Regions from separate parts of the Homo sapiens genome. Here all the other regions are linked to region 4. Evidence: fine-mapped expression QTL. A gene starts in region 4. Each other region holds a variant in brackets. All regions are shown on one strand. Distances are from middle to middle. Region 1 holds the start of UGT1A8 (UDP glucuronosyltransferase family 1 member A8). Region 2 overlaps ATG16L1 (autophagy related 16 like 1). Region 3 holds the start of UGT1A7 (UDP glucuronosyltransferase family 1 member A7). Region 4 holds the start of ATG16L1 (autophagy related 16 like 1).

What was found.
Region 1: its variant is fine-mapped to the expression of ATG16L1 in stomach (GTEx, PIP above 0.99).
Region 2: its variant is fine-mapped to the expression of ATG16L1 in whole blood (TOPMed, PIP above 0.99).
Region 3: its variant is fine-mapped to the expression of ATG16L1 in transverse colon (CEDAR, PIP 0.95).

What each region holds. Positions count from the first base shown.
Region 1 is chr2:233,612,314-233,620,313 of GRCh38, forward strand. UGT1A8 (UDP glucuronosyltransferase family 1 member A8) reads left to right here and starts at 5,320. Exons shown (of 5, transcript NM_019076.5): 1 at 5,320-6,249. The coding sequence starts at 5,395. It also overlaps UGT1A. The variant G/A (reference allele first, on the strand shown) is at 3,161.
Region 2 is chr2:233,281,213-233,289,212 of GRCh38, forward strand. ATG16L1 (autophagy related 16 like 1) reads left to right here. Exons shown (of 18, transcript NM_030803.7): 12 at 1,470-1,541. It also overlaps SCARNA6. Among named protein-coding and RNA genes, the nearest start is that of SAG, 23 kb to the right of the region's middle. RefSeq lists an enhancer at 7,472-7,973. The variant A/G (reference allele first, on the strand shown) is at 3,416.
Region 3 is chr2:233,675,370-233,683,369 of GRCh38, forward strand. The region is part of intron 1 of UGT1A8 (UDP glucuronosyltransferase family 1 member A8); the gene reads left to right. All of the region lies in intron 1 of UGT1A10 (UDP glucuronosyltransferase family 1 member A10), which reads left to right. All of the region lies in intron 1 of UGT1A9 (UDP glucuronosyltransferase family 1 member A9), which reads left to right. It overlaps UGT1A7 (UDP glucuronosyltransferase family 1 member A7), which reads left to right and starts at 6,532. Exons shown (of 5, transcript NM_019077.3): 1 at 6,532-7,423. The coding sequence starts at 6,569. It also overlaps UGT1A. The variant T/C (reference allele first, on the strand shown) is at 3,716.
Region 4 is chr2:233,248,669-233,256,668 of GRCh38, forward strand. It overlaps ATG16L1 (autophagy related 16 like 1), which reads left to right and starts at 3,005. Exons shown (of 18, transcript NM_030803.7): 1 at 3,005-3,274; 2 at 7,434-7,527. The coding sequence starts at 3,160. RefSeq lists an enhancer at 2,593-3,292.

The DNA of each region.
Region 1 (8,000 bases), 360 kb after region 4:
TGTTCCTGTGTTAGTTTGCTGAGAATTATGGTTTCCAGCTTCATCCATGTTTCTGCAAAGGACATGAACTCATCCTTTTTTATGGCTGCATAGTATTCCATGTTGTATATGTGCCACATTTTCTTTATCCAGTCTATCATTGATGGGCATTTGAGTTGGTTCCACATCCTTGCTGTTGCGAATAGTGTTGCAATAAACACACGTGTGCATGCGTCTTTATAGTAGAATAATTTATAAGCCCTTTGGTATATACCCAGTAATGGGATTGCTGTGTCAAATGATATTTCTGGTTCTAGATCCTTGAGGAATCGCCACACTGTGTTCCACAATGGTTGAACTAATTTACACTCCTACCAACAGTGTAAAAGTGTTCCTATTTCTCCACATCCTCTCCAGCATCTGTTCTTTCCTGAGTTTTAATGATCGCCATTCTAACTGGCATGAGATGGTATCTCATTGTGGATTTGATTTGCATTTCTCTAATGACCAGTGATGATGAGCTGTTTTTGATATGTTTGCTGGTCATATAAATGTCTTCTTTTGTGAAGTGTCTGTTCATATCCTTTGCGCACTTTTTGATGGGGTTGTTTTTTTCTTGTAAATTGGTTTAAGTTCCTTTTAGATTCTGGATATTAGCCCTTTGTCAGATGGATAGGTTGCAAAACTTTTCTCCAATTCTTTAAGTTGCCTGTTCCATCTGATGATAGTTTCTTTTGCTGTGCAGAAGCTCTTTGGTTTAATTAGATCCCATTTGTCAATTTTGGCTTTTGGTTGCCATTGCTTTTGGTGTTTTAGTTATGAAGTCTTTGCCCATGCCTATGTCCTGAATGGTTATTGCCTAGGTTTTCTTCTAGGGTTTTCATGGTTTTAGGTCTTATGTTTAAGGCTTTAATCCATCTTGAGTTAATTTTTGTATAAGGTGTAAGGAAGGGGTCCAGATTCAGTTTTCTACAAATGGCTAGCCAGTTTTCCCAACACCATTTATTAAATAGGGAATCGTTTCCCCATTTCTTGTTTTTGTCAGGTTTGTCAAAGGTCAGATGGTTGTAGATGTGTGGCATAATTTCTGAGGCCTCTGTTCTGTTCCATTGGTCTATATATCTGTTTGGGTACAAGTACCATGCTGTTTTGGTTACTGTAGTCTTGTAGTATAGTTTGAAGTCAAGTAGCGTGATGCCTCCAGCTTTGTTCTTTTTGCTTAGGATTGTCTTGGCTATACTGGCTCTTTTTTAGTTCCATATGAACTTTAAAGTAGTTTTTTTCCAATTCTGTGAAGAAATTCAATGGTAGCTTGATGGGGATAGCATTGAATGTATAAATTACCTTGGACAGTATGACCATTTTCACGATATTGATTCTTCCTATCCATGAGCGTGGAATGTTTTTCCATTTGTTTGTGTCCTCCCTTATTTACTTGAGCAGTGGTTTGTAGTTTTCCTTGAAGAGGTCCTTCCCATCCCTTGTAAGTTGTATTCCTAGGTATTTTATTCTCTTTGTAGCAATTGTGAATGGGAGTTTACTCATGATTTGGCTCTGTTTTTCTGTTATTGGTGTATAGGAATGCCTGTGATTTTTGCACATTGATTTTTGTATCTTGAGACTTTTCTGAAGTTGCTTATCAGCTTAAGGAGATTTTGGGCTGAGATGATGGGGTTTTCTAAATATACAATCATGTCATCTGCAAACAGAGACAATTTGACTTCCTCTCTTCCTATTTGAATCCCTATATTGCTTTCTCTTGCCTGATTACCTTGGCCAGAACTTCCAATACTATGTTGAATAGGAGTGGTGAGAGAGGGCATCCTTATCTTGTGCCAGTTTTCAAAGGGAATGCTTCCAGCTTTTGCCCATTCAGTATGATATTGGCTGTGTGTTTGTCATAAAATACTCCTATTATTTTGAGATATGTTCAATCAATACCTGGTTTATTGAGAGGTTTTAGCATGAAGGGCTGTTGAATTTTGTTGAAGGTCTTTTCTGCATCTATGAGGATAATCATGTGTTTTTTGTCATTGGTTCTGTTTATGTAATGGATTACGTTTATTGATTTGCATATGTTGGACTAGCCTTGCATTCCAGAGATGAAGCCAACTTCATCATGGTGGATAAGCTTGTTGATGTGTTGCTGGATTTGGTTTGGCAGTATTTTATTGAGGATTTTCACCATTGATGTTCATCAGGGATAGTGGTCTGAACTTTTTTGTTGTTGTTGTTGTGTCTCTGCCAGGTTTTGGTATCAAGATGATGCTGGCCTCATAAAATGAGTTATGGAGGAGTCTCTGTTTTTCTATTGTTGGGAATAGTTTCAGAAGGAATGGAACCAGCTCCTTTTTGTACCTCTGGTAGAATTAGGCTGTGAATCCATCTGGTCCTGGGCTTTTTTTGGTTGGTAGGCTATTAATTACTGCCTCAATTTCAGAACCTGTTATTGGTTTAGTCAGGGATTCGACTTCTTCCTGGTTTAGCCTTGGGAGGGTGTATGAGTCCGGGAATTTATCCATTTCTCCAAGATTTTTTAGTTTATTTGCATAGAGGTGTTTATAGTATTCTCTGATGGTAGTTTGTATTTCTCTCGGATCAGTGGTGATCTCCCTTTTATCATTTTTTATTGTGTCTATTTGATTCTTCTCTCTTTTCTTCTGTATTAGTCTGGCTAGTGGTCTATCTATTTTGTTAATCTTTTCAAAAAACCAGCTCCTGGATTCATTGATTTTTTGAAAATATTTTGTGTCTCTATCTTCTTCAGTTCTGCTCTGATCTTAGTTTTTTCTTGTCTTCTGCTAGCTTTTGAATTTGTTTGCTCTTGCTTCTCTAGTTCTTTTAATTGTGATGTTAGGGTTTTGATTTTAGATCTTTCCTGCTTTCTCCTGTGGGCATTTAGTGCTATAAATTTCCCTCTAAACACTGCTTTAGCCATGTCCCAGAGATTCTGGTACGTTGTGTCTTTGTTCTCATTGGTTTCAAAGAGCTTATTTATTTCTGCCTTAATTTCATTATTTACCCAGTAGTTATTCAGGAGCAAGTTGCTCAGTTTCCATGCAGTTGTGTGGTTATGAGTGAGTTTCTTAATCCTGAGTTCTAATTTGATTGCTCTGTGGTCTGAGAGACTGTTTTACTTCCAATTATGTGGTCAATTTTAGAATAAGTGCAGTGTGGTGAT[G/A]AGAAGAATGTATATTCTGTTGATTTGGGGTGGAGAATTCTGTAGATGTCTAGTAGGTCTGCTTGATCCAGAGCTGAGTTCAGGTCCTCAATATCCTTGCTACTTTTCTGTCTCATTGATCTATCTAATATTGACAGTGGGGTGTTAAAGTCTTCCACTGTTATTGTATGGGAGTCTAAGTCTCTTTGTAGGTCTGTAAGAACTTGCTTTATGAATCTGGGTGCTCCTGTATTGGGTGCATATGTACTTAGGATGGGTAGCACTTCTTGTTGCATTGATCTCTTTACCATTATGTAATGCCCTTCTTTGTCTTTTTTGATCTTTGTTCATTTAAAGTCTATTTTATCAGAGACTAGGATTGCAACCCCTGCTTTTTTTTTCTTTCCATTTGCTTGGTAAATATTCCTCCCTCCCTTTATTTTGAGCCTATGTGTGTCTTGCACGTGAGATGGGTCTCCTGAGTGCAGCACACCGATGGGTCTTGACTGTTTATCCAATTTGCCAGTCTGTGTCTTTTAATTGGGGCATTTAGCCCATTTACATTTAGGGTTAATATTGTTATGTGTGAATTTGATCCTGTCATTATGATGCTAGCTGGTTATATTGCCCACTAGTTGATGCAGTTTCTTTATAGTGTCAATTGTCCTTACAACTGGGTATGTTTTTGCAGTGGCTGGTACTCATTTTTCCTTTCCATATTTAGTGCTTCCTTCAGGAGCTCTTGTTTAAGGCAGGCCTGGTGGTGACAAAATCTCTCAGCATTTGCTGGTCTGTAAAGGATTTTATTTCTCCTTCACTTATGAAGCTTAGTTTGGCTGGATATGAAATTCTGGGTTGAAAATTCTTTTCTTTAAGAATGTTGAATATTGGCCCCCACTGTCTTCTGGCTTGTGGGGTTTCTGCAGAGATATCTGCTTTTAGTCTGATGGGTTACCTTTGTGGGTAACCAGACCTTTCTCTCTGGTTGCCCTTAACATTTTTTCCTTCATTTTAACCTTAATGAATCTGATGATTCTGTGTCTTGGGGTTGCTTTTCTCGAGGAGTGTCTTTGTGGTGTTCTCTGTTTTTCCTGAATTTGAATGTTGGCCTGTCTTGCTAGCCTGGAGAAGTTCTCCTGGATAATATCCTAAAGAGTGTTTTTGGTACATACGTTTAAACAACCAGATCTCCTGAGAAATCACTCACTATTGGGAGGACAGTGCCAAGCCATTCATGAGGGAACCATGCCCATGATCCAAACATCTCCCACCATGCTTCACCTTCAACTCTGGGGATTATATTTGACCATGATATATGGAGGGGACAAACATACAAATTATATCAAAGGCATAGCATGGCTACTGTGAAAGGAGGGTAAAAACACAAAGATGACATCACCACTGACCTCAGGGAGTGCCCAGTAGACTGAGGGAGACAAGTACATATTTTCCTGAAGGAGGGCACTGGATTGATGGCATGTTTAGAATGTGGAAGTAGAGCGGCCACAGAAAGGCAGCCCGGCAGAGTGCTCGCACAAAGACTGGGCTAGAGACTCCCCACTGCATGTGATGTATCTGAGGAAAGTCATTAAAATAGGTGATGGTCACTTTCCATCAAGTCCCTGGTATGGTCCATGGAGGCAGGGTTGTCAATGTCATTTCGGCATTTCAGAGGCCTCTCAGGGTTTGGATATGGCAGAAGACAACCAGCAATGATTATGCATTGCAGAGATGCAGGTGAGCCCCAATTTCTTGCCAGCTGGGAAGTCGGTGCTAAGGGGCCTTGCTGTCTTTCCTTGGAACATAGGATACCAATTTCTTTCTGGACAGAGAGTATTTGGTTGGCTAAAGTTAAAATCTAAATTTTGCTTTGGGATGAATTCCAAAAATATTAGCTTTATTCAAATTTACTTTCACTTTATCTTTCTGAATCTTCAAGGTCCTAAAGCATTGCTTAGTAATTTTGTTTCTAAACTCACGTTACAGCACTGGGCATGATCTGTCCAAGGCAGAGACTATAAGCTACTCTTATAGTACTCTTATGAGATACATACAAGTAGGTATCTCAAAAAATGATACTCATGTATTCCTGTTCTTATGAGTAAATCATTGGCAGTGAGTGTGATTTTTTTTTTTTTTATGACAGGATAAATACACGCCCTCTATTGGGGTCAGGTTTTGTGCCTGTAGTTCTTCCGCCTACTGTATCATAGCAGCTTAGAATCCCAGCTGCTGGCTCGGGCTGCAGTTCTCTCATGGCTCGCACAGGGTGGACCAGCCCCATTCCCCTATGTGTTTCTCTGCTGCTGACCTGTGGCTTTGCTGAGGCAGGGAAGCTGCTGGTAGTGCCCATGGATGGGAGTCACTGGTTCACCATGCAGTCGGTGGTGGAGAAACTTATCCTCAGGGGGCATGAGGTGGTTGTAGTCATGCCAGAGGTGAGTTGGCAACTGGGAAAATCACTGAATTGCACAGTGAAGACTTACTCAACCTCATACACTCTGGAGGATCTGGACCGGGAATTCATGGATTTCGCCGATGCTCAATGGAAAGCACAAGTACGAAGTTTGTTTTCTCTATTTCTGAGTTCATCCAATGGTTTTTTTAACTTATTTTTTTCGCATTGCAGGAGTTTGTTTAATGACCGAAAATTAGTAGAATACTTAAAGGAGAGTTCTTTTGATGCGGTGTTTCTTGATCCTTTTGATGCCTGTGGCTTAATTGTTGCCAAATATTTCTCCCTCCCCTCTGTGGTCTTCGCCAGGGGAATAGCTTGCCACTATCTTGAAGAAGGTGCACAGTGCCCTGCTCCTCTTTCCTATGTCCCCAGAATTCTCTTAGGGTTCTCAGATGCCATGACTTTCAAGGAGAGAGTACGGAACCACATCATGCACTTGGAGGAACATTTATTTTGCCAGTATTTTTCCAAAAATGCCCTAGAAATAGCCTCTGAAATTCTCCAAACACCTGTCACAGCATATGATCTCTACAGCCACACATCAATTTGGTTGTTGCGAACAGACTTTGTTTTGGACTATCCCAAACCCGTGATGCCCAATATGATCTTCATTGGTGGTATCAACTGCCATCAGGGAAAGCCATTGCCTATGGTAAGTCACCTCTCCTTTAGCACATTAGGAATAATCTGGCTTTGGAAATTAAAAAAAGATTCCTTACTGAATTGTGATTTGACATTTTCATTTGTTGCATTTCAAATTTCTTTCCAGTTTAACAGATTATTTTGTGCCAATTTATGTACTCATCAGTTATCAAATTTTATAAAACTGCCCTTCTTGAAGGTGTGTGTATATAATTTAAAAATTGTAGATCGTATTCAGCTTACATTTTTGAGTACCATGTTTAGAAAAGTACCAAAAACCACAGTAAGAAATTGAACTTTCCTTTTTTGCTAATTCTATGTGACCCCCTAGAGCAAATGCTCTTAGCAGTTTTGCATACATTCTTTTCATTAAAAAAAGTATTTTAGGTGTATATATTTAATTTAAAAATTATAGATCATATTTAGCCCACGTTTTTGAGTACCGTGTTTAGAAAAGTACCAAAAACCACAGCAAGAAATGAAACTCCCCTTTTTCCTAAGTTTTCTGACCCCTAGAGGAAATGCTCTTATCAGTTTTGTGTATATTCTTTTCAGTATAAAAAAAGTTTCATTTATATGCAATATCTAATGTAAATTCTCATACCTATTTTGTTAAAATAAACTTTTATGCTGTGCTGGACATATTCTTCTTTACCTTGCATTTTTTATTTGCCAATAAATTGTAGATTCCTTTATACACCAATACAGACAGATTTGACAAGTTCTTTTCATAATTGCATAAAAGTCTTTACTTTGGATGCTATGTAGTTTTTTAAACCAATTAATATTGATATATGTTTAGGCATTTTCCATTTTTGCTTTTATGAATAAGGCTGTGTAAACATTCTTTAATAATTTCCTTGTGTGAATATATTTCTATATTCTTGCTTTTATCTTAGTAGACTAGAGTCCTACATGTAGGGTTAGAGGGTTTTCCTGAATTGAGAAGATTGGCATCTTTTTGCTATTATATCTTCCTGTTCAGGAATATGTGTGTCTCACTATTTATTCAGGTCTTGTTTTATATACATAAATAAAAATTTTCACTATATAAGCATTTATGTTTGTTATTAACATTTATTCCTTGGCATTTTATGATTTTTGAAACTATTTTTTTACAGGGTAATTTTTCCATTTCTACAATTAACTGACTATTGGTAATTAAAGTTTTGGTTTTTGCGTATGTATCTTGTATCCAGCCACATTACTAACTTTTCTTATTATTTTGTAGTATGCATTAGATGTACAATATGCAATACCATCTGCAAGTAATTCCCTTCTCTGATATTTATACTGCTTCTTTTGCTTTGCTGGAGCATATACTTCCAAAACATTATTGAGTAATATTGTTAGAGTAGCCAGTTTAAATAGGGATTTGGTAGCTTGTGACTGAAAAATCCTTGAAAAATACCAGAATAAGATTCTTGGCAAACGCATAGTTGCTAAATCCAGATGAAACACCTGGTGTCTCATCTCATTATATTATTTTATTAGGGATGGAGTATACATTTTTGTCTATTGTTCTGGCTTCTTATAAGGTTCAGTAGACTTTGTAACAGTCATATCTGTCATTGGCAGATGGTTGGTGAAAGAGTGACCGTTCAGCCATCTCACAGGAAAGTGAAATAATGCTCTTTCTAAAAAGCAGGAAGACTACAGTTGTAGGCCTTTCAAAATTAGGCATGACTTTCAGCTCACGGCAAGATCAGGTGAAGAGATGCAAGTTGCAGGACTCTAAGAGGTTGGACGTATCAAAGCACT
Region 2 (8,000 bases), 33 kb after region 4:
AAATAATTTAAGACATTAGGTTCTTGAAATTATAACATAACTTACCCGATTTCTCTGCCATTCTCTGTATCTTAAGCCAAATCCATGTTAAAGAAAGATGGAAATAGATTATAGGGTTAATTGCTGTATCAACTCTGATAAACCCTTGGGTTCTGCTTCATGCATTAGGCTTGTGATGTTACTCAGTACTTTGTATAATTTCACTTAATAGTTGTATTTTGAGTGTATAGATGCTGTACTCCAGGGGCCAGCGTGGTCTCTACCCTCCGAGATTCGCCATCTAAATGAGAGTGATGGGAAAGCATTAAACTGCAAAGCGTTGTGCTGAGTTATGGCTGAGATGTGTGTGGAGTAGAAAGGAAATACTGATGAGAGAGTAGCTCATTCTGGGGCAAGGGTTAGGGGCCATAGTAAGGCATTTAAAGCAGATCTAAAGATAATCAAAGGTCAGAGGCAAAAAGCCAGGGACGGACACCACAGGCAGAGGGAGCAGAGGAGGTTGGGCTGGGCGAGTGCAGGAGCTTGGGTGGAGGTGATGACTGGGTGAGGCCAAGGTAGCGTCCTCATCTACCAAGAGTCCTTATCTTGATTGTCATCTCTGGGGAGCCTTGTTCACATTCCTGGGTGGGCTGAGTGTCTATGTTCCCAGCATCTTGTGCAAACCTATTCTATGGCACGGTGGTGGTCTATATCTGTTTCTTTTACTAAGCTGAGAGCTGACTACCTGAGGACAAGTGTCTGGGCGTTAATCATCTTTGTACCCCCAGCACCTGGCACAGTGCCTATTAGGTTCTAAATAACCACTCCTTGAATTTAATTGGGGAATGATAAGGAAATAAGGTTGGAAAATGAGGGTATGTTGTATTGAAAGGTTTAGACTTTTGTAAAGCCATGTGGAGACTTGAGAGATTTTTAGAAATGGGTATGGTGTTAAGTTGTGGTGGAACTGTGACAGTGCTGAAGACTGGCTTGGAGGAAGCAGGTCTGCAGTGGCCCGTGCGTTCAGTGCTTCTGCAGAGATGCAGAAGGCCCAGGTGGGGGCTGAGGAAATAGGGGAGAAAGGAGAGGACCAGGCTCGACACATTGAAGATGAACAGTTCTCAGAGTGAGAGTTGGGAGATTAGGCAAGGAGAGAGTCAAGGGTGCCTCTGAGGTTTCTGACTTGTTAATATTTGCTGCTAGTGAAGGTTGCCAAGGGAAAAGTGAGTAGGGAAGGCTGGGTTCCATTTGGAGCTTGAGGTGTCTGCAATATTCTGATGAAATTGAGCAAGCTCAGAAAAAAAAAGGTCTGAACTCGAAGGAGACTGGCGAGTTGAAGCACACTCACGACAGTAGCTGGTATTCAGGCTGGTTGTATAGGGTGAAGCATCTAAACCTTCTTGTACTTGATTATTGGGGAATTTATATCGTGTGAACTGAATTCCTCTGATTTGGCTAAAAATTGGTTTTCCTCTTCTTTATTCCCACAGGGATCTTACCTCTTAGCAGCTTCAAATGATTTTGCAAGCCGAATCTGGACTGTGGATGATTATCGATTACGGGTAAGACCCAGTTAAGAAAGTTAGTGCAATCTCCAAACTTCATGTGGTGTTATCAAGGCACAAACTGGCAGGTGCTTAATTAGGGGACTTTGTTTTCCCAAAAATCATGCTTGATTCACCCTGCCCTTCCTTTCCTCCTTGGGGAAATCTGTGTTTCCACTTTATACTCTTTGTCCAAAACTCAGTTTCAAAATATTTGCAATGGGACCCTCACATTTGCATGAAAACCTTGGAATACTCTTCATAAGGACTAAATACTTTGGTAGATAGCAATTTTGGCTTAATGGCACAGAACTTAGCAACAGCATGTGAATTGTGATTCCTGTGGGCTCTAAAACCTAATTACCTAAAGTGGGATATAGAAGTACAAATGGATGTATCATAGGGATAAGACAATTCTGAAACAAAAACTCCAAGCTGAGAAAGAGGGGACAGGTGTCAGAGCAGGGAGAAATGATTGGATGTTGAGGAAAGCTGCATTTGAACCAAAACTTGCCAAGAATTCTCTTGGCATCTGACAGAGAGACCAAAACTTGGTTGTATCATTTTTGATTGGGGCAGGGGGCGGAGGGCGAAGCATGTAACTTAATTTGCAGACATTTTTTTTCCCCATAAGCCTGAAGGAATCATCACATAAGCTTATTAAATACAAGCTATTGAAAGATATAATGGAGGATGAATTTGGCATTAGTAGGCATTTTACTAAAAAAAAAAAAAATTTTTTTTTAAAAAGTTAACACAAGCCGTTTGTGTGTGTCAACCCACACCAAAAACAGAGGAAGTAATGTTAAGATGAATTTTTTTTCTTTTTTTTTTTCTTTTGAGATGGAGTTTTGCTCTTGTGTGGGGTACAGTAGTGTGATCTCAGCTCACTGCAACCTCCGCCTTCTGGGTTCAAGCAATTCTCCTGCCTCAGCCTCCTGAGTAGCTAGGATTACAGGCATGGCTAATTTTTATATTTTTAGTAGAGATGGGGTTTCACCATGTTGGCCAGGCTGGTCTTGAACTTCTGACCTCAAGGGATCTGCCCACCTTGGCCTCCCAAAGTGCTGGGATTACAGGCGTGAGCCACTGTGCCCAGCAAGATACATTTCTTTTTTTGTTTTTTGAAGGCAGAGTCTTGCTCTGTCATCCAGGCTAGAGTGCAATGGCGCAATCTTGGCTCACTGCAAACTCTGCCTCCTGGGTTCAAGCAATTCTCCTGCCTCAGCCTCCCGAGTAGCTGGGATTACAGGCGCCCGCCACCACGCCCAGCTAATTTTTGTATTTTTTTTTAGTAGAGATGGGGTTTCACCATCTTGGACAGGCTGGTCTTGAACTGACCTCATGATCCACCCACCTCGGCCTCCCAAAGTGCTGGGATTACAGGCGTGAGCCACCGTGCCCAGCCTAAATTTCTTTTTTCTTTTTTTTTTTTCTGAGATGGAGCCTGTTGCCCAGGCTGGAGTGCAATGACGTGATCTCGGCTCACTGCAACCTCTGCCTCCCAGGTTCAAGTGATCTCCTTCCTCAGCCTCCCAAGCAGCTGGGATTACATGCATCCTCCACCACGCCCGGCTAATTTTTGTTTCGTTTTTTAAATTTATTTATTATTTTGAGATGGAGTCTTGCTCTGTCGCCCAGGCTAGAGTGCAGTGGCATGATCTCGGTTCACTGCAAGCTCCACCTGCCAGGTTCACGCCAGTCTCCTGCCTCAGCCTCCTGAGTAGGTGGGACTACAGGCACGTGCCACCACACCTGGCTAATTTTTTTGTATTTTTAATGGAGATGGGGTTTCACCATGTTAACCAGGACGTTCTCGATCTCCTGACCTCGTGATCCACCTGCCTCAGCCTCCCAAAGTGTTGGGATTACAGGCCTGAGCCACTGCGCCT[A/G]GCCCAATTTTTGTATTTTTTTAGTAGAGACGGGGTTTCCCCATGTTGGCTAGGCTGGTCTCGAACTCCTGACCTCAAGTGATCCGTCTGCCTCGGCCTCCCAAAGTGCTGGGATTACAGGCATGCACCACCACGCCTGGCCCAGATGAATTTCTTAAATCTACAAGGGAGGTGGAGGAGCTGTAGTAGAATGGTATATTAGGTGGGTTTCTGGTGATTTTCTTGAGAGGGTTGTATAGATTATTAGTATTAGATGCTAGCCAATACCTCAGGGGTGGTCATTCTTAATTCACAATTTAAAGAAGATCCAGGTCCGAACATGCAAAATAACGAGCCCTGACGATGACAAGGACATGTTGTGAGAGCTGAGGAGCCTATGTTCTTGTCTTAATGACGGACTAGGGAAGTGCACTGCTAGAGAGCCTGCCATGGGGCACACCAATTCAGATGCTTGAATAGGGTCATTTGAAGCCCTGTAGTTCTGTACTGTACACATGGAAAAGATGGCCTAGCCGGTACTCATGGCTACGTTCTAATCCATCCTGTGGTATACTGTGATTTATCTATCCATTGATCTTTTATTCTAGACTGAGATACAGTAAAACTGACCAATTATTGAAGAGGGGCCTACAGCCTTTTTTTTATGATAGTCCCTTAGAGGAGAAGAGGAAGAAGTTGAGTCAACCAGTAGTGCAGGATATTTTTTAATTGGTAATAGAGGAGTCCTATACAGGTGGGCATCAGCCTTTGGGTCAGAAATAACAAGAAGGGGACCTAGAGCAGGGAGCTAGACTGACAGATGAAGGTCATAACATTGAGCTGGCACACAGGTCTCACTGGGGAAATGTTCTCAGTATGCTGGAGCAGGGCGCAGGCTGCTGGGCTGCTGCTTCTGATGATGCCGTGCTGGGGCAGGAGCCTCCTGTGCTGGACTAGTTGGCTTTTGAGTTTCTGGCCTGCTCATAACCTTGTCCTGTTACTTGGTAAATGTGTGAAGATTGGGAGGCCTGTTTCAGCAGATTCCCTGCACCCAGAGAAGTCTCCCGAAAACCTTACCAGGTTCCAGAAAGTAAAATAGGCTCCTTATTCTAGGGAGTGCTGGCTTTTTTTTAGACCCCAGTTAACAGATGGTACTGGAGGACAGGAATCCATTCATCTATGTTGTGAAACTCACAGACATCCATGCCCTGTTCGGTGTCTCCTTTGCTCTTACGACAAGGGAATGGTGTTGGGAGAGACTGGCAAACAAGAAGCAGCTGGTTGAGTGCTTGCTTTAACATCCTTTTTGTAAATGCACCCTAGAAACAACCTGGCATTGAAAGGAGTCCTCTGTGATGCCTCCGTTAAAAATCTAAAGTCAGTACAAAACTGCCTGGCTGCTTGGTAAGATTTGACTTGAGAAACTTGCTTGAGAACCCCCCTGCCCACTTCTCTCGTGGTGTGGTGAAGTGGCCACAGTGAGGATTGGCTATGGCTGCTAGGTGATGGTTTCTGTTTGGAATGTTCCTCTTTGAGTTCTGCATTCTTCTGGAATCGGCTGTCTTTGGTTGGTGTTATGTTAGCTGCATGATTAAGTTGTTACCTGAATGAGCAATTTTGTGTTTAGAAATAGGGGTCGGCACTCGTTATCTGCCATGAGGCACAGAGATAGTCTGTGCAGAGCCCAGTGGAGCAGAGAAATCTTGAAGCCTCCCCACTTTGAGGCCCCGGCCTTGATGACATCTAAACCCGCTGCCCCGCTATTGTTAATCCCTGTTTAAAAGTAGAAGATGAAACCTAAAAGTGTTGTTAATCATAAAAATGAATTTCAGAAACACCTAACAGATAGAAGAATTTTAAATCTGATCCATTTCAAAGGACTCTATAAATGATAGAGGTGAATGAATGCCTGTAGGAGGCCCAGCTCTATACCATTGGAAGCACCGAGACAGTGAGTCAGCCTCAGGCAGCTCCAGCTTATTCTCACTGAGAATAAGGTGAGCAGAAGCCCAAACTTTTTTTTTTTTTTTTTTTTTTGAGACAGTGTCTCGCTCAGTCACCCAGGCTGGAGTGCAGTGGCGTGATCTCTGCTCGCTGCAAGCTCTGCCTCCTGGGTTCACACCATTCTCCTGCCTCAGCCTCCCGAGTAGCTGGGACTACAGGCGCCCGCCACCACGTCCAGCTAAGTTTTTGTATTTTTAGTAGAGACGAGATTTCACCGTGTTAGCCAGGATGGTCTCGATCTCCTGACCTTGTGATCCGCTCACCTCGGCCTCCCAAAGTGCTGGGATTACAGGCATGAGCCACCGCGCCTGGCCAAGCCCAAACATTGTAAAGAGCAAGGTGACAATACGTACGAGGAGCCAAGAAACAAAACGTCCCTTTCCCTTATTCCATTAGTTCAGCAGTTTCATTCCTGGAAATAAGTCAAGAGAAGAAAGCTGTGTGCTCATAGATGTTCACTGCAACAGCATCTGTGACAGACTCTTAAAGAAAGGGAGGTGCAACAAGGAAGAGATTTGATCCCATTCATCTTGCTGAGTCCGTACTAAGATAGCACAAGGATGTTTCCTGTTCACAGATGTTACAGAGACCCAGGGTGTTCAAATCAGTGGAACCCCAAAGCCCATGAATTTTCAGCTATCACATGAAAAAATGCTTACGCTATAAGCTTAAAAGAGTAATGGATAAATTTTTAGGAAGAGTATAATTGTGTAAAGATTAACATGTTCCTGTGAAGTATGTAAAAATGAATATACAGATGGTCCCCAATGTAGGGTATTTTCATCTTACAATGTGTTTGTCAAGACTGGCCCCATCATAAGTTGAGGATCATCTGTACTTGCCATATCCCACTTATGAACAATGTCTTTTTCTACCCTGTGTTTGTGAAATGTGATTTTACTCTTAACATTAAGAAAGAAACAGATAGTGAATATAAATACAAATTTGAAATTTTGATAAAATAGTTATTCAGAATTTAATGTAAGGCCGGGCACAGTGGTTCATGCCTGTAATCTTAGCACTTTGGGAAGCCGAGGCAGGCGGATCACTTGAAGTCAGGAATTCAAGACTAGCCTGGCCAACATGGTAAAACCCCGTCTCTACTAAAAATACAAAAATTAGCTGGATGTGGTGGCACACGCCTATAGTCCCAGCTACTCAGGAGGCTGAGGCAGGAGAATCACTTAAACCTGGGAGGCGGAGGTTGCAGTGAGCTGAGATCACGCCACTGCACTCCAGCTTGGGTGACAAGAGTGAAACTCTGTCTCAAAAAAGAAAAAAAGATAGAATTTAAGAAGTAGCCTACCCAAGTTTTGTCTCTGCCCATGATTTGTGCAGAGTGGATGTTTTATATTGAATGGAATCATTATTCATGGACTGTATCTAGTGTAGGCTTTGTTACTGGAGCTTTCTTGATCTTACGGAAGGATCAGTGGGAGGTTTTCACACAACCGCAGCACAGCCGGCACCCGACTGGCAGCAGTTGTAAGATGCTGTCCCAGTTTCAGAGGTTTGAATGTGGGATAAGGCAGTCTGAGAACTCATACAAGCTTCCCTCATTGAAGCTGAGAGGGGAGTATATGTGGTCCGAAGTTTTCGCTTCTGTGCTAAAGTGGAGTTAACCCCACTGAAAATAGAGGAAGGATTGGTTTCAAAAATGTTAACACAAAAAAAATCTAACCCTGAACCATGAGGTCTCATCTTTGGGAACTAAGGTTTGGAGTGCAGTGGCATGATCTGGGCTCCTTGCAGCCTCGACCTTCTGGGCTCAAGCAGTCCTCTCACCTCAGCCTCCCCTGTAACAGCTGAGACTATAAGTACCCACCACACCCAGCTAATTCGAATTTTTTTGTAGAGATGAGGGTCTCACTAATTTCCCCAGGCTGGTCTCAAACTCCTGGGCTCAAGCAATCCTCCCACCTTGGCTTCCCAAAGTGCTAGGATTACCAGTGTGAGCCACTTTGCCAACCCTTGCATTTTCTAATTAGAAAGAAAACATCAGTGAATACCTTCTGAACCTCTGGTGTTTTACACATAGAAAAATGTTGATCATGCACTGCATAGAGGTCAATGATGAATGGTAAAAGGTCTGAGTCCTCAGATCCCCTCCCGGCATCCCAGTTATCCCCAGCTGCCTCTCCTCCATCGCACTTCAGAAGTGCTGCGATGGGCAGAAGGGCAGCTGACACTCCGTGATGTCCCTCATTCTGTGTTCCTCCGTGAGCTCAGGGAAGACACTGGTTGGCATCCAACAGCTTAGTCACAAAGGGATTTGATTGTTGGGAGTGCTGGTATCTGTGGCTATGATCTGCCTTGTTCAAGCTGAGACCTCTGATTGAAAATCCCCCAGGGGTTTTAATTGTTTACATAAGGAGTCCTGATGTTTCCTTTTGTAAATTATGCCTGTGGTGACCTTGTCTAGTCTGACTTTAAATATGGAACTGACTTTCAGCAGCATGGCGCAACATCGAGGCTTTAAAAATTCTTTAATTTGATATAATTCAGACATAGAAAAATTACAAAAACAGTACAGCAGGTATCTGTGGTAGAGCTGATTTCAAATTCAAGATTGAGGATGGGGAGCACGTGAAGCTTGGTGCTA
Region 3 (8,000 bases), 430 kb after region 4:
AGAGGAGGTCCCTAGTCTTTTTGAATTTTTGATGAGTTCCAACAGAATTAATGACTGGTTTTAGGTGAAAAGAATTCAGGCTTTGTCTATACCATCCATGGCAGGTGCGGCTCTGGGGGTGGGATATGGTTACAGATAAATAAGAGATCTGTGCTTCCCCCCTTGCTGTAAGATTCTGGCTATAGTCCAAGATCCAAATTCAAAGTTAGCTTTTGGTGGACAAGACTAAGGCCTCCCACTAAAATTATTTACTTCAAGTTTTTATTTTCAAAGTTTTCAAACATACACAATGGAGAGACTCAGTGTAATGAGCACCCACTTATCCATTCTTAGGTTAAATAATTTTCACTATTTTGCTCTACTAATTCATCTATCCCTTTATTCTATCTTTTTAAAGAAAACTTTTAAAAATAAATTTGTATGTTTTTAAAAAGAAATTCTTGGCATGTCATTCCATCACTGAACAATTCATTTAATATAAAAAATAAGAAAAATTTGTTACATAGCCACAATATCATTATCATATCTAAGACAATAAAAATTCTTTAATATTATCTCATTTACAGTCCATAATAAAATTTCCCCGGATTGTCTCACACAACATCTTTCCATACAGATCAATGGAATAGAATGGAGAATTCAGAAATAAACCCATACATATACATCCTTGGCCAATTGACTAGGTGCCAAAGTTTGACAAGTGTGTCAAGATCATTCAAATGGGAAAGAATAGTCTTTTCAACAGAAGACCCACCCTGGGGTCCTTGAGCTCCAGCGTCAGACTCCAAAACCATTTGTGGAAATCATCCAGCCACCTCCCACCATGCCTCTGATGAATCCTTCACCGATGGATTCATCAGAAGCATGGTTGATGATGAATTCACTGATGAATCACCCCTGTGTGCATCCACAGGGGTCCTGCAAATATTTTCTCACAGTCTGTTGAGTGACTTTTCTTACAAATACTTCATTGTAGAATAAATATAGGATTATAGCAAGGTTACAACAAATAGTTTAGAGAATTTTCATCTACCCTGTGTCCAGTTTCCACCATTGTTAAATCTCATGTTTCTATGGCACATCCATCACAACTCATTCACCAATATTGACGCATAATGATGAGCTAAAAGCTAAAGTCTGTTTCCTTCAGATTTCATTAATTTTTACTTAATTTCCCTGTTCTTTTATGGGATCCCAGTGATACCACCTGAAATGTAGTCATCATGTCTCCTTTGTCTCCTCCAGCCTGTGACGGTTTCTCAGACTCTCCTTGTTTTTAGTGACTTGGGCAGTTTCGAGCAGTCCTAGTCAGGTGTCCTGTAGAATGTTCCTCTAGAATGTCAGTGTGTGTTTTGCCTGATGTTTTCATCGTGGTAAAACTGGGTTTATAGACTTTTGGTAGGAAGACACAGAGGTCTTTTCTTGTTTTCTTGCGTGTGAATATTCAACTGTAGAAAAACAGAACCTTTTCTCCACTGCATTGCCTTTGTACCTTTGTAAAAACTTGGTTGTTCATACATCTGTGCACGTATTTCTAGACTTTGTATTCTGTTCTGTTGATCTATTTGTGAAATATTTGATTACTATAGCTGTGTAATAATCTATAAATGAGGTAGTGTTACCTCTAATTTTTTTTTTCAAATTGCTTTTGCTATTGGAGGTCTTTTGCATTACCATATGCATTTTAAAATAAGTTCATTAATGTGTGCAAAAATCCTGCTAGGATTTTGATTGGGATTGTATTTTATTTATAGATCAACTGGGGAGAAACAACATCTTAGCAATTTTGAGTTTTCCAATTCATTAACATATCTTTTTATTTAGGTCCGTCATCAGTGCTCTGTAGTTTTCAATGTACAGTCTTTCACATCCTTTGTCAGATATATCCCTAAGTATATCATGTTTTTGATGCTATTTAAGTGGTATTTTTAATCCAGTTTTCAAGTGTTCATTGCTAGTATAGTTGACCCCTGAACAATGTGGGAATGAAGGGGACCAACCCGTGTGTAGTAGAAAATCCGCATAGAACTTTTGATTCTCCAAAAACTTAACTACTAATAGCCAACTGTTTACCAAAAGCCTTGCCAATACCATAAACAGTCAATTAACACATAGTTTGTATGTTATTAGTATTATATCCTGTATTATGACAATGCAGCTAGCTAGAGAAAAGAAAATGTTATTAAAAAACGTAACATATGAAAAAATGCTCAACATCACTAGTTACCAGAAAAATGAAGATGAAAACCACAATAAGATATCATCTCACACCAGTTAGAATGGCTGTTATTAAAAAGTCAAGAAATAATAGATGCTGGTGAGGCTGCTGAGAAAAGGGAACACTTGTACCCTCTTGGTGGGAATGCAAATTAGTTCATCCCCTGTGGGAAGTAGTTTGGAGATTTTGCAAAGAACTTAAAACAGAACTGTCATTCGACCCAGCAATCCCATTACTAGATATATGTAAAAAAAATCGTTTTACCAAGAAACACATGCACTGGTATGTTCATTGCAGCTCTATTCAGAATAGAAAAGACATGAAATCAACCTAGGTGCCCGTCAACAGTGGCTTAGATGAAGAAAATGTGGAACACATACTCCATGGAATATGCAGCCATAAAAAAAGAATGAAATCATGTCCTTTGTAACAACATGGATGCAGCTGGAGGTCATTACCCTAAGGGAATATATACAGGCACAGAACACCAAATACCATTGTTTTCACTTAGAAATGGGAGCTAAATAGTGGGTACTTTTGGGCATAAAGATGGCAACAATAGACACTATGGACTCCTAAAAGGGAGAGGAAAGGCTGCAAGAGTTGAAAAACTATTGGGTACTATGCTCAGTACTTGGGTGATGGGAGCAATCATGCCCCAAACATCAGCATCACACAATATACTCAGGTAACCTGCACATGTACTCCTGAATCTAAAATAAAAGTTGAGTATGTATAAGAGGAAGTCATTCATCATAAAGGTCTCCATCCTCATCATCTTCCATTGAGTGGGCTGTGGAGGAGGAGGAGTAGATGTTGATTTTGCTGTCTCAGGGTGGCAGAGGCAGAAGAGGTAGAGGAGGTGGAAGTGGAGGCAGGAGAGGCAGGTGCACTTGGTGTAACCTTATGGAAATACATCATAATTACTGTCTGTTTTTTTCTCTTTGATGTATTTAAAAATGCTTTTATACAGTACTAATCCTTCTTCCCCATTTGCTTTAGTTTCAGTGCCCATAAGGGTTCATGTCTTAATAGAAGTCAATAGCAGTCTTAAATAATTGGAAGCATTTCTATGAGGCTTGTATTGTGTAAGGCCAATTTTTTTTCTGGCACTGCTTCTTCTACATCTTCTTTCTCATCAAGTACTGATTGGAAAGCACTCATCTCTATCAGGTCATCTATTGATTCCCTGAGTGTGGCATCTATTGGCTCTTGAATTTCTCCAAGAGTCATATTTTGAAATACCTTATCCCCAACATTTTGTTGCTGTATCCATAATCCCTTCATGACTTCCTTGATTGGCTCTGTCATAAATCCTGTGAAGTCATGTGCAACATCTGGTCACAGTTTTCTCCAGAAGAAATGTACTGTTTGGGGCTTGGTGGCTTTCAAAGCTCTTTCTATAATAACAGTGGCATCTTCAGTGGTGTAATCCTTCTGGACTTTCATGACATTCTCTATCCAGATTCTCTTCCATAGTATTGACAACCTTTTCCA[T/C]AGAAAACTGTGTGTAATGAGTTCTAAATTTCCTTAAGACACCTGATTGAGAGACTGAATTAGAGATGTTGGGTTTGGAAGCACGTAGACCATTTTGACACCTTCAGTGTTGAACTTGTGGGTTCTGGGTGGCTAGGGAATGGTCCAATATCGAAAGAACTTTAAAAGACAGTCCCTTGCTGGCAATGCATTTTCTGCCTTCACGGACAAAGCCTTGATGGAACCAATCCAGAAAACGCGTTCTTATTGTTGAGTCCTTCTTTTTGTACAACAATAAAACTGTCAGTGAGTGTTGATCTTTTCCTTTCAAGGCTTGAGGTTTGGCAGTTCTACTGATGAGGGCAGTCCTGACTGTAAACTTGACTGCATTTACACAAAACAGTAGAGTTAGCCTATCCCTTCCTGCCTTACATTCTGGTGCTTGGTTTTCTTCCTTGCCAATAAATGTCTTTTGTGTCATCTTTTTTTTTGTTTGTTTGTTTTTGTTTTTTCCAGAATAGGGCACTGTCATCTGTATTAAAACCCTGTTCAGGCAGATATCCTTTGTCCTCAATGCTTTTCTTCATGGCATCTGGGAACTCATCTGCCTCCTTTTGCTTGGCAGAGGCTGGTTCTCCTGTTATCTGGACAATTTTAAAGCCAAACCTCTTTGTAAAACTAGCAAACCATCCTTTGTTGCCATTAAATTCTCCAGTTTTAGATTCTTCACCTCTCTTTTGCTTTAAGTTGTCATAAAATGACTTTAATTTTTCTCAAATCACATTGGCATCTATAAATAAGCCTTTCTTATAGCAATCCTACACCCACATTAAAGTTGCATTTTCAATATGAGACAAAAATGTATTTCACAAAAAGATGCGAGGTTTGGCTCCTGCTGGCATAGCTGCAGCAATGTCTTCATGAATCTTTTCTTCTCTTTTCTTTCTTTCTCTCTCTCTCTTTTTTCTTTTTCTCTTTCTTTCTTTTGCAATGGTCCTTATCTATCTTCATTGATTTTGAAATGGCAGGCAATCATAGCGGCAGAGCTCAATCTACGGTACCTATCAAGTAATTCAAGTTTTTTTGGTAATGTCATGATTTTTCTTTGCTTCTTGGGAGTACTTGCAGCATCATTAGTTGCACTTTATAGTCCCATGGTGGTATTCAAGGTTTAAAAAATTACACTAAACATGATGAAAAATACAGTAGAACCATAAGAGATCATTTTTTACTCTGACATGCAATTTACTAGAGAGAAGAAACGCGCAGAGGGTATAAACGTCATATCACATGCATTTAGGCCACACTTTAGCTCCCTGCAATAGCAACAGGAGGTAGCAACAAAATTATTATAGTAGTGTAGTATGTACTAGAGGAAAGTGACTAAGCAAATGTCTAGTACCAGTTAGGGTGTCCTGGAAGGAACCATCTTGTGCTTCTACAAGAATTATGCCCTGAGGTTGGCTGTTGAATCCCTCACGAAATGCTCCTCAGTGTGTTGCCTAACACACACTGCTGAGCTCACCCATTAAAATCTGCATGATGGAATTCAGCCCAATGCAATGAGAATTCCCATGGACTTCCTCTGTGCAAGGCAAAGCATGGGTGCTGTGGAAGGAGGATGAAAACAGGTAGAAGATGTAATCTCATCCTCAAGGGGTGCTCGGTAGAATGGAGGAAACAATACATAGATTCCTGAAGATGAGCACCAAAGTGATTGGGGTGGGCCCATAGCAAAGGCCTGCAGCTCTGTTCAGAATGCAGAAGCAGAGTGGGCAGAGAGAGACAGCTCATTAGAGTGCTTGGGCAAGCATAGGGACGGCGACTCACCACTGCAGACAATGTATCTGAGGAAAGCCATTTAAAATAGGTGACAGTCACATTCCATCAAATTTCTGGAAGGGTCCATGGAGGCAGGGTTGTCAATCTCATTACAGCATTTCAGAGGCCTCAGAAGATTTGGAAATGAAAAAAGACAAGCAGCACTTGTGGCTCACCTGTGTCACAATTGTGGCTCACCTGTGTCTCTGCAATGCGCAAGTGAGCTGTGTATTGCAGAGACACAGGTGAGCCGCAATTTCCTCCCAGTTAGGAGGTCAACGCTAAGACCCTTGCTCTCTTTCCGTCGAACATGAGATGCCAATTTCTTTCTGGGCAGAGGACAAAATAAAAATTGTCTATAAACTTTGGCCAGGTGTAGTGGCTCACGCCTGTAATCCCAGCATTTTGGGAGGCCGAGATGGGCAGATTGCCTGAGCTCAGGAGTTCGAGACCAGCCTGGGCAACATGGTGAAACCCCGTCTCCACTAAAATACAAAAAGTTAGCTGGGCATGGCAGCGTGCGCCTGTAATCCCAGCTACTGAGGCTGAGGCAGGAGAATCGTTTGAACCCAGGAAGTGGAGGTTGCAGTGAGCCTAGATCTTACCACTGCACTCCAGCCTGGATGACACAGTGAGACTCCATCTCAAAAAAAAAAAAAAAAAAAAAAAATTGCAAATTTTTCTTTGTGACAAATTCCAAAATTATTAGCTTCGTTCAAATTTACTTTCCTTTTTATCTTTCAATGTCGTCAAGGCCAAAAGCATTGCTTAATAATTTTGTTTCTAAACTCATATTGCAGCACAGGGCATGATCTGTCCCCAAGGCAAAGATGATGAGTTACTCTTTTCTTGAAAACATATAAGCAGGTATCTCAGCAAAGGCTACTCATGTATTATTATGAGTAAATCATTGGCAGTGAATGTGAATTTTTTTTTAAATGAATGAATAAGTACACGCCTTCTTTTGAGGGCAGGTTCTATCTGTACTTCTTCCACTTACTATATTATAGGAGCTTAGAATCCCAGCTGCTGGCTCTGGGCTGAAGTTCTCTGATGGCTCGTGCAGGGTGGACTGGCCTCCTTCCCCTATATGTGTGTCTACTGCTGACCTGTGGCTTTGCCAAGGCAGGGAAGCTGCTGGTAGTGCCCATGGATGGGAGCCACTGGTTCACCATGCAGTCGGTGGTGGAGAAACTCATCCTCAGGGGGCATGAGGTGGTCGTAGTCATGCCAGAGGTGAGTTGGCAACTGGGAAGATCACTGAATTGCACAGTGAAGACTTACTCAACCTCATACACTCTGGAGGATCAGGACCGGGAGTTCATGGTTTTTGCCGATGCTCGCTGGACGGCACCATTGCGAAGTGCATTTTCTCTATTAACAAGTTCATCCAATGGTATTTTTGACTTATTTTTTTCAAATTGCAGGAGTTTGTTTAATGACCGAAAATTAGTAGAATACTTAAAGGAGAGTTGTTTTGATGCAGTGTTTCTCGATCCTTTTGATGCCTGTGGCTTAATTGTTGCCAAATATTTCTCCCTCCCCTCTGTGGTCTTCGCCAGGGGAATATTTTGCCACTATCTTGAAGAAGGTGCACAGTGCCCTGCTCCTCTTTCCTATGTCCCCAGACTTCTCTTAGGGTTCTCAGACGCCATGACTTTCAAGGAGAGAGTATGGAACCACATCATGCACTTGGAGGAACATTTATTTTGCCCCTATTTTTTCAAAAATGTCTTAGAAATAGCCTCTGAAATTCTCCAAACCCCTGTCACGGCATATGATCTCTACAGCCACACATCAATTTGGTTGTTGCGAACTGACTTTGTTTTGGAGTATCCCAAACCCGTGATGCCCAATATGATCTTCATTGGTGGTATCAACTGTCATCAGGGAAAGCCAGTGCCTATGGTAAGTTATCTCCCCTTTAGCACATTAAGAATAATCTGGCTTTGGAAATTAAAAGATTTCTTACAGAATCATAATTTATCATTTACATTTGTCCCATTTGGAATTTCTTTCTGGTTTAAGGAATTCTTTTGTACCAATTCACTTAATTGTTGGGTAGCAAATTGTATAAAGCAGCTCTTGTTGATATGTAAGTGTATACAATTGATATAATTGTAGATCATATCTAGGCTGCAATCTAAATGCTATTTTTGGAAAAATACAAAAAAACCACAGTAAGAAATGAAACTTCCCTTTTTTTGCTAATTCTACACTACCCCCAGAGGAAAATATTCTTAGCAGTTTTGTGTGAATTGTTTTCAATTTTTTTGAAATTATACTATGTATATGCATATATTTAGGGTAAATTGTCACTTCTATTTTATCAATATAAAATCTACTATCATGCTGGCTATGTTTTTTTATGTTAGATTTTTCTCTTGTCAATAAGTTAAAGATATCTTTACAGGTCAATGCATACAGATTTGACATGTTCTTTTAATAATTGCATGGTAGTCTTTACTTTGGATGCAATGTAGTT
Region 4 (8,000 bases):
ATTACAGGTGTGAGCCACCGCGCCCGGCCCAACTTTTTCATGCATATGTAGTATATATATATATAATGTCTACCTATTAGAAAATGCATATAAAATACACATATAAGAAAAAAACCCAGCAACACCACTGCCTACAGATAATACTATTATCAGTATTTTCACATATTCCATTCATTAATTAAATAACATTTACTGAGCACCTAATACATAAAGGGCTTCATGCTCTTGCTGGAGATATAATGATGTGCAAAAACAGACACAGCTCTTGTCTCATGGAGTTTACAGTCTACTGGGGGAGACAGACCTTTATCAAGTAATGATACAAATACATGTGAACCTATAACTGGGATCAATGCTATAAAGGAGAGGTACACGCGTAACAGGGAGATAAGATCTGTAACAGGTTGTGAAGGTCTCTCATCCTACTGTTGCGAGGAAGTGACTACTGAAATGAGAACGAACACACAGAAATTAATTTGGAGAAGTCAGAAGGGAAGATGTGCCCAACACAGTAAATCCAAAGGCCCTGCAACGAGAGGGAGCACGGTAAGCAGAAGGAAGTAAGAGGCTTCAGCGTGGCTGTGGTTGTGTGCTAGATAAAGCTGGTGAGTTAGGAGGAGGGCAGGACTAGCAGAGCTTCATATTCTTTCTTTAGAAATTATTCTTCATGTGTTCAACAAATATTTGTCTATGATGAGCTAGGGACATACTCATTTTACATAAATTATGACATATACTGCTGTTACTATCAACAATTTCCAGCAATAAATGTACAGTAATTTAACCAATCTCTTATTGTTGGAAATGTAGATTTTTTTCTCCAACTTCTCATCATTATTATAAACCGCAATTACTTTTACACCAACCTAAAAACAATTCTGCAACAAAGATTTTTGTATGTGGACATGTGTCCAAATATTTCTTGGCATAAATTCCTGCAAGTGGAATTGCTGGTTAGGCAAACTGCAAATTTGTAAACATATTTTTATATATATAGAGAGAGAGTCAGGGTCTTGCTCTGTTGACCAGGCTGCTGGAACACAGTGGTGCTATCACAGCTCACTGCAGCCTTGACCTCCTAGGCTCGAGCGATGCTCCCACCTCAGCCCCATCCCAGTAGCTAGGATTACAGGCACACGCCACCACACTCAACTAATTTTTTGTATTGTTGTAGAGACAGGTTGTGTCATGTTGCCCAGGCTGGTTGGTCTCAAATTCCTGAGCTCAAGTGATCCTCTCACCTTGGCCTCCCAAAGTGTTGGGATTACAGGTGTGAGCCACCATGCCCAACCTTGGAAACATATTTTAATCATAAATGTGGGAAATTAACATGCTCAACTGTCAAGATTTGGTGTAATGGTCTTTTAAGGGTGGTGCCACTGCTGCATTTGAAGGCATTCTCGGTCACTTTCAGAACTTTTTCATTTTCTTCAGCGTGTGAGGAAGTCACTTCTATTTCTGATCCCATTGGATCCTTCCAACGACTTCAGGTCCACTCAATACTGACTACCAGTGAACCATCTTCAACTACAGTGCTAGAAGCCTGACTGTCCTCCTCTCCTCAGCCTAAGTTCTTCTTATCTGTCTCTGAAGGACCTTCCTCTGGACTTGAGACACACTGGAAGAGAAGGTAGTTTCTGATATTCCTTTCCTCTTTTGGCCAACTACTTTGTCTGGCTCCATTTTCATGCAGTAAATTCACTAATTGTTAAAGGCAGATGGAGCTCCAGCAACTCTATTACAGAACTGGGTTTTCCATTCTACTGAGCTTGTTCACAGACACAACTTTCTCAGGAGCCAGTGTGTCTTCATCTCCCCCTTTCAACATCTACAGCCTCAGATTACCTTCTAAGGCTCCATTTATTGTCAGGCCACAATTTCTAGGATTCTAACAATGAAGACAAACTCTGATACACAATTCACATCTTTCTTAGCTCCCGTTTCCAGTTCTCTTCTCCATTGCAAACAAAAACAAAAACCCCAAACAAACCACAAAACCTGTTTCCAAGTTCAGTGGGACACTCTTCCCAACGCACCCTGACTTCAGGTATGTAAGAGTTAAGAAACAAGAAAGAAACACGAAAAGCAGCTTAACAATCAAAGACAGGTTTATTTTGGAGAATAAACCTGAGAGGGGCTTCTTGTCGATTTTGGTCAGGAGCGTTTTCTCTTACACACTAAGGGTGTTTAAGGGTTTACGAAGCGGTGAGCTTATTGCAGGTTCGTAATGTTTCTGTATGAGGGAAAGTTTATTGCAGGGTTGGAAAGTCTCTGGCCGGAGGGGAGGCTATCTCTGGGTTGGCATGTTTCTGGTTGGAAGTGGGTTTATCTTAGGGTTGGAATGTTTCTGGTTATGCTGACATTAGCCATTAGGCTGATGTTTTTGGGTTGGATTTAGGCAGTTTCTTAATCAAGGGGAACTTAAAATGGTGGCAGTTGTCCAAGATGGCAATGCTCCTGCTGTCAGGGTAGGCCTTGGGAAGACACCAGGTGTCTTTGTAAACTTAGGTTTCCCCTGTACCAAGCACAGTGCTGACTGCATTACATGGGTTTTTCTTTTTACTATTCGTGACAACCTTCTGAGGTAGGTATCATTACTGTCCCCATTTACAGATGAGACAACTGAGGCTTAGGTAGGCTGTCACTCATCCACAGCCACAGAGCTACTATGGAGGGAACCCCATTTGTTCCTAAACTGCGATTAAAAATAAAAGTGGGGGGAGACAGGCCAAGAAAAAAAACACGAAAAGGGTTGAAAAGCAGCAAAAGAAAAGTAAGCAGTCAGGCGGAAACGGCCCCTTTCCTGCCTCCTTCCCGCCCGGCGCTGGGCCTTGCGCAGGGCCCGGACGCCCCCAAGCGGCCACCTCTCTGCAGCTGACGCTTCCGGCTACAGGCTGGCGTCACTAGCGAGCGCCCTGCGTAGGCACCGGCTCCTGAGCCCGTGCTTCGGGTGAGGGGGCGGGTCTTCCGGCCCTCTCGAAAATCATTTCCGGCATGAGCCGGAAGACCGTCCCGGATGGCCTCGGGGACTGCCAGTGTGTGGAGGTGAGCTCCGGGATTGCCGGCATTCCCGCTTCTGCTGGTTGCTTCATGCTGCAGGCTGCGGCCGTCAGCCCTCGCTCGCATTGGTGGCGCTGAGGTGCCGGGGCAGCAAGTGACATGTCGTCGGGCCTCCGCGCCGCTGACTTCCCCCGCTGGAAGCGCCACATCTCGGAGCAACTGAGGCGCCGGGACCGGCTGCAGAGACAGGCGTTCGAGGAGATCATCCTGCAGTGTGAGCGGCGCCGGTGCGGGCTGGGAGTGGGGCGGGCGGGCCCCGCGGAGGCATGCGGGGCGTCAGCGGGAACCTGAGGCCGAGTCCCTGGCGCCGCCCGCACGCATGGCGGCCGCCCCGGGTAACCCGCGCTTGGGACGCCGCACGCCTTTTAAATGTTTTTTCTAACCTGCGTTTTATCTTTGGAGGATTTTCCCTATTAAATTGTACGATCTTTGTGGGGAGGCACAGTTCGTGTTTGTATTTGTAAATCCCAGTAGCTCATACAATGCTTATGCACTTAAATAGGTCCCAGAAACATCCCATCTATGGGGTCATGTTAATGAAACGGTCGTTGACTTTCAGTCGCAGAATTAACATTGCCTTCTCAATGCACTGGAACGGGTGGCCTTTGATTCCTCAAACTTACTTCCCTTACTCCACCTTGGTGGTTTTTTTTGCGGGGAAACGGGATAGGGGATCAGGGTCTTGCTGTGTCGCCGAGCCTGGAGTGCAGTGGCGGAGATCACGGCTCACTGCAGTCTCAAACTCCCAGGATCAAGTGATCCTCCCACCTAAGCCTCCCGAGTAGCTGGGATTACAGACGCGCTTCACCACGGTCGGCTAATTTTTTTAAAAAAAAATTTTTTGGAACGAGGTCTCACTGTGTTTCCCAGGCTGGTCTCCAACTCCTGCGCTCAAACGATCTTCCCACCTCGGCCTCCCAAAGTGCTGGGATTATAGGCGTGAGCCACCGAGCCCGGCCCCACCTTGGTGTTAATATCGTAATATCTTTTAGGCGGGACAGAACCTTTACTGTTACTGAAATCTTCAGTATGAAAGAGGTGGTTTTCTTTCCCCTTACTGCTTGCAGCTTAAGGGTACAAAAATGTTTGTACCTTTACCTAAATTATAATGGTCCTAAGGTGGTTCCATCTGCGTCTGAAAGTAAACCTGACGACTTTCTCAAGTTATGCTGTTGATGATATTCAGAATAATAATTGCTACCTTATATTGCATTCTGATTGTGCAAAATCAGTAGTTCTCAAACTTAGCTCCACATTAGAATCACCTATGGATCTTTAAAAAATTACAAATCCCAAGCCACACCCCAGACCAACTAAATCACAAGTATCACAGTACACAAGTATCAGTGTGTGTGTGTTTGTGTTTGTGTGAGATTAAGCCTAGAACTGCATGCCAAGTTATCAGTGTTTTTTGATGCTTCCCAAATGACTACTGTGCAGACAAATTTTAGTACTGTGGTAAGTATTTGCATGTGTTATTTTATCTTTCCCAAAATTCTGTGTATGAAGCAGGAACTGTTATTGCCATTTTCACACATGGAACTGAGGCCAAGAGAGATTAGGTAACTTCTGAGGTTGCACAGCAGGTTAATGGTGAGACTGGGTTTTTTTGTTTTTTTTTTTTTTTTTTTTTGGAGACAGAGTCTTGCTCTGTCACCTAGGCTGGAGTGCAAGTGGCGTGATCTCAGCTCACTGCAACCTCCACCTCCCAGGTTCAAGAGATCCTCCTGCCTCAGCCTCCCTAGTAGCTGGAACTATAGGCAAGCACCGCCACGCCCAGCTAATTTTTGTATTTTTAGTAGAGACAGGGTTTCACCATGTTGGCCAGGCGGATCTTGAACTTCTGACCTCAGGTGATGTACCTGCCTCAGCCACCCAAAGTGCTAGGATTACAGGCATGAGCCACAGTGACCAGCCGGGACTGGAATTTGAACTTAGGCTTGATGACTAACTTTTGCATTTGCTTTTCTCACTGGCTCCCCCAGCAAATGGTTCTTTGCTTTCACTGCACCCATTGTTTTAACAAAACTAAGAAGAAAGAGGATGCTTTGCTGTTCTAGGAGGCCCTGAAGAACAGTGCTGTTTCAGAAAGCCAGAAGCACAAGAAGTCCCTCTTCCTCAAAACATGATTCCCTGACAGATGACATAAATCAGTTCATTAGGTGCTTATTAGGTGCTTATGCTTTAAAAGCTAATATCCTTTGAAAGTCAAATTGGGTGGGAGGCTTGACTCACCCCTCACTGAACATTTTCACTTACTTTCTGAGTCTGTTTTGCCTCATCTATAAAATGGGGATGAAGCTTGCCCTGCCCACTTCATAAAAACAGTGCTGTGCATATAAGTGCTTTCAAAGCCATCTGTATAATAGCTTGTAATTGTAAAGCGTTATCTCTTTGACACAAATGGAATGTTTTCCTGCACTTTGAAAATGGCATCTTGATGGGGCAGGAGCATGTAGAACAGTCAGAATAAGAGGTCACTTGTGGAGAGCAGATAGCTTTAAAGGGTGCTAGAGTAGCGAGTAATACCTGCCTGAGGGACCAGGACAGGAGACCGGGATGAGAAGCTAACAAGAGGCAGGAGAGTGAGACAGGCTTTGCATGTTAAGATCTTCTGTTTAGGCAGAGGGATTGACATTTAGGGAGATCATTTCTATTATAGTTTGTGAAACACCTTCATTCCACTCATTCCAGCCTTCCCAGGCCAGTCAAGCTCTGACCCTCCATCAGCCTGGAGTCTATTCTCTGTTCAGTCCGTGCCTTTGAGTCTGAAGAGAAAGGTGGAAAGAAGCCGTAGGGGGAGGGAAAGGCTTCCCTCCATCTCCAGCCTTCTCTTCAGGGAGGAACCTTTGGGAAGGACTCCTTTTGAACGCCTGTGTTTTTTGAAAGAACCTAAAATTATCACAGGGCACTAAGCTTTGGTTTAACATCTGAAGGTCTTACTAGAGCCCTTTGACACTGGTGGATTTTAAACCATAATTTCCCAGGTTGAAACCAATGTCCAGTTTGGCTAATTCGTTTGACCAATAGATGAGAGTGTTTCTACCCAGGAGTTCTCTTTTCAGGTATCAAAAAGTGGGACTCAAAACTCTTTAAAAGGAGAAACAAGCTCTTTTAACAGGAATAGTCACTAGCATAAACCCTGTCTTGTTCTGCTTGGTACCTGCAGAACAGGTACCCACATCTGATCTTACTGGTGCCTGTGTACCTATTACTCTTATTTTTTATTTCATTTCATTTGTTTATTTATTTATTTATTTATTTAGAGACAGTCTCACTCTGTCGCCCAGGCTGGAGTGCAGTGGCGCGATCTCAGCTCACTGCAACCTCTGCCTCCCGAGTTCAAGCGATTCTTGTGCCTCAGTCTCCCTAGTAGCTGGGACTGTGGGCAAGTGCCACCGTGCCTGGCTAATTTTTGTATTTTTAGTAGTTTCGCCGTGTTGGCCAGGCTGTTCTCGAACTCCTGACCTCAGGTAGTTTGCCTTCCTTGGCCTTCCAAAGTGCTGCGATTACAGGCGTGAGCCACAGTAATAGGCCTGTGTGCCTATTACACTTAACTACGTGTTCTTTCTAATCTTGTGTTTTGAATTTCTGTACTCTGTCTCCTGTCAAATTTATTATGTTTGGAAAGAGAACTCATTTCCTCTCTAAGCTCTCCCCTCTTGTGTTCTCTCACACGTTAGCATCCTCCGCCCAGTTGCTTGAGCGAGGAGCCTCAGAATAATCCTTGACTTTTTACCAATACAGATCTGTTAGCGTAACGGCCTGCTTTTATAATCTTTTATTTAATCATTGCCAGTAAGAAGTCTAAATTTCTGATCCTGCTTTTTCCTGTGTTGGCTCCAACCTTTATTTCCAGCCACTTACCAAAAGACTCTGTTATTCCTTCTGCATGGCCCATCATCTTCTTTTAAGACTTAACTCATATATCACCTCCTGTGACACCATTCATAAAAATGAGTACAGAGTGTATTCTCTGTACCTTTTTATACTTGACTGAATTAAATGTTAACTCCATGTTGGAGACTGTCATTTGTATTTCTAGTTCCCTGACCTAAAAAGTAATTAGATATGTCAACTTATGGTAAAGTTCTCCTGTCTTACTTAAAGGTACATAGCATTTCACTTTGCCATTGTGTTTAGTGTGTTTTTCTTTTTTCCTCCCAAGGTAGAAACAAATAACTTCTGGGGTAGAAAGCATTTTCAGCTCCCTTTAATAGGGAAGACATTCTTGCAGGTGATTCTGTAGGTTACTGTGGCTGAGGAATGTATGTTCCTGTATTGCATCCTTCAATACATGACAAGGTAGGTACCTAGCAAGTGTACATACGTTGTAATAAATAACTTAGTTTCTGACTTTTTTATTTTAATAGATAACAAATTGCTGGAAAAGTCAGATCTTCATTCAGTGTTGGCCCAGAAACTACAGGCTGAAAAGCATGACGTACCAAACAGGCACGAGATAAGGTATTTTGAAACTAACTTGTATTATTTATGTCTCCTCTAAGGAAATTTATCTCAGTTCAGTTGTCACTTCTCTAATTTAAAAGCAAATCAAGTACTATTTCTGTGTTCCAGTTTTTGTCAGCTCCTTTCAAATAAGAACTAAAACCATGTAATTACAATTGTTTTTTAGAAGGTATGTCATACCTAGAAAGGTTATTATCAGTACAGTGCTCTGAGCTTGAGAAATTTCTTAAGGCAGGTTCACGTGGTAACCCTAGGTCAGTTTCTCATCTAACCTGCCAGGATTCATGTTTTTTTGTTTCTTTGTTTTTAAATAATCACAGACAAGTATTTCTGAGCGGGTTTGTGTAGATCCTGTTAATGTAGGATTGATTGGCACATACGTAAAAATTGCTTTCCTGCAGTATGGGTCTATTTGATCCTTTTTAGGTTGGTGTTTTTTTCAACATACAAATGGTCCCCAACTTGCAGTG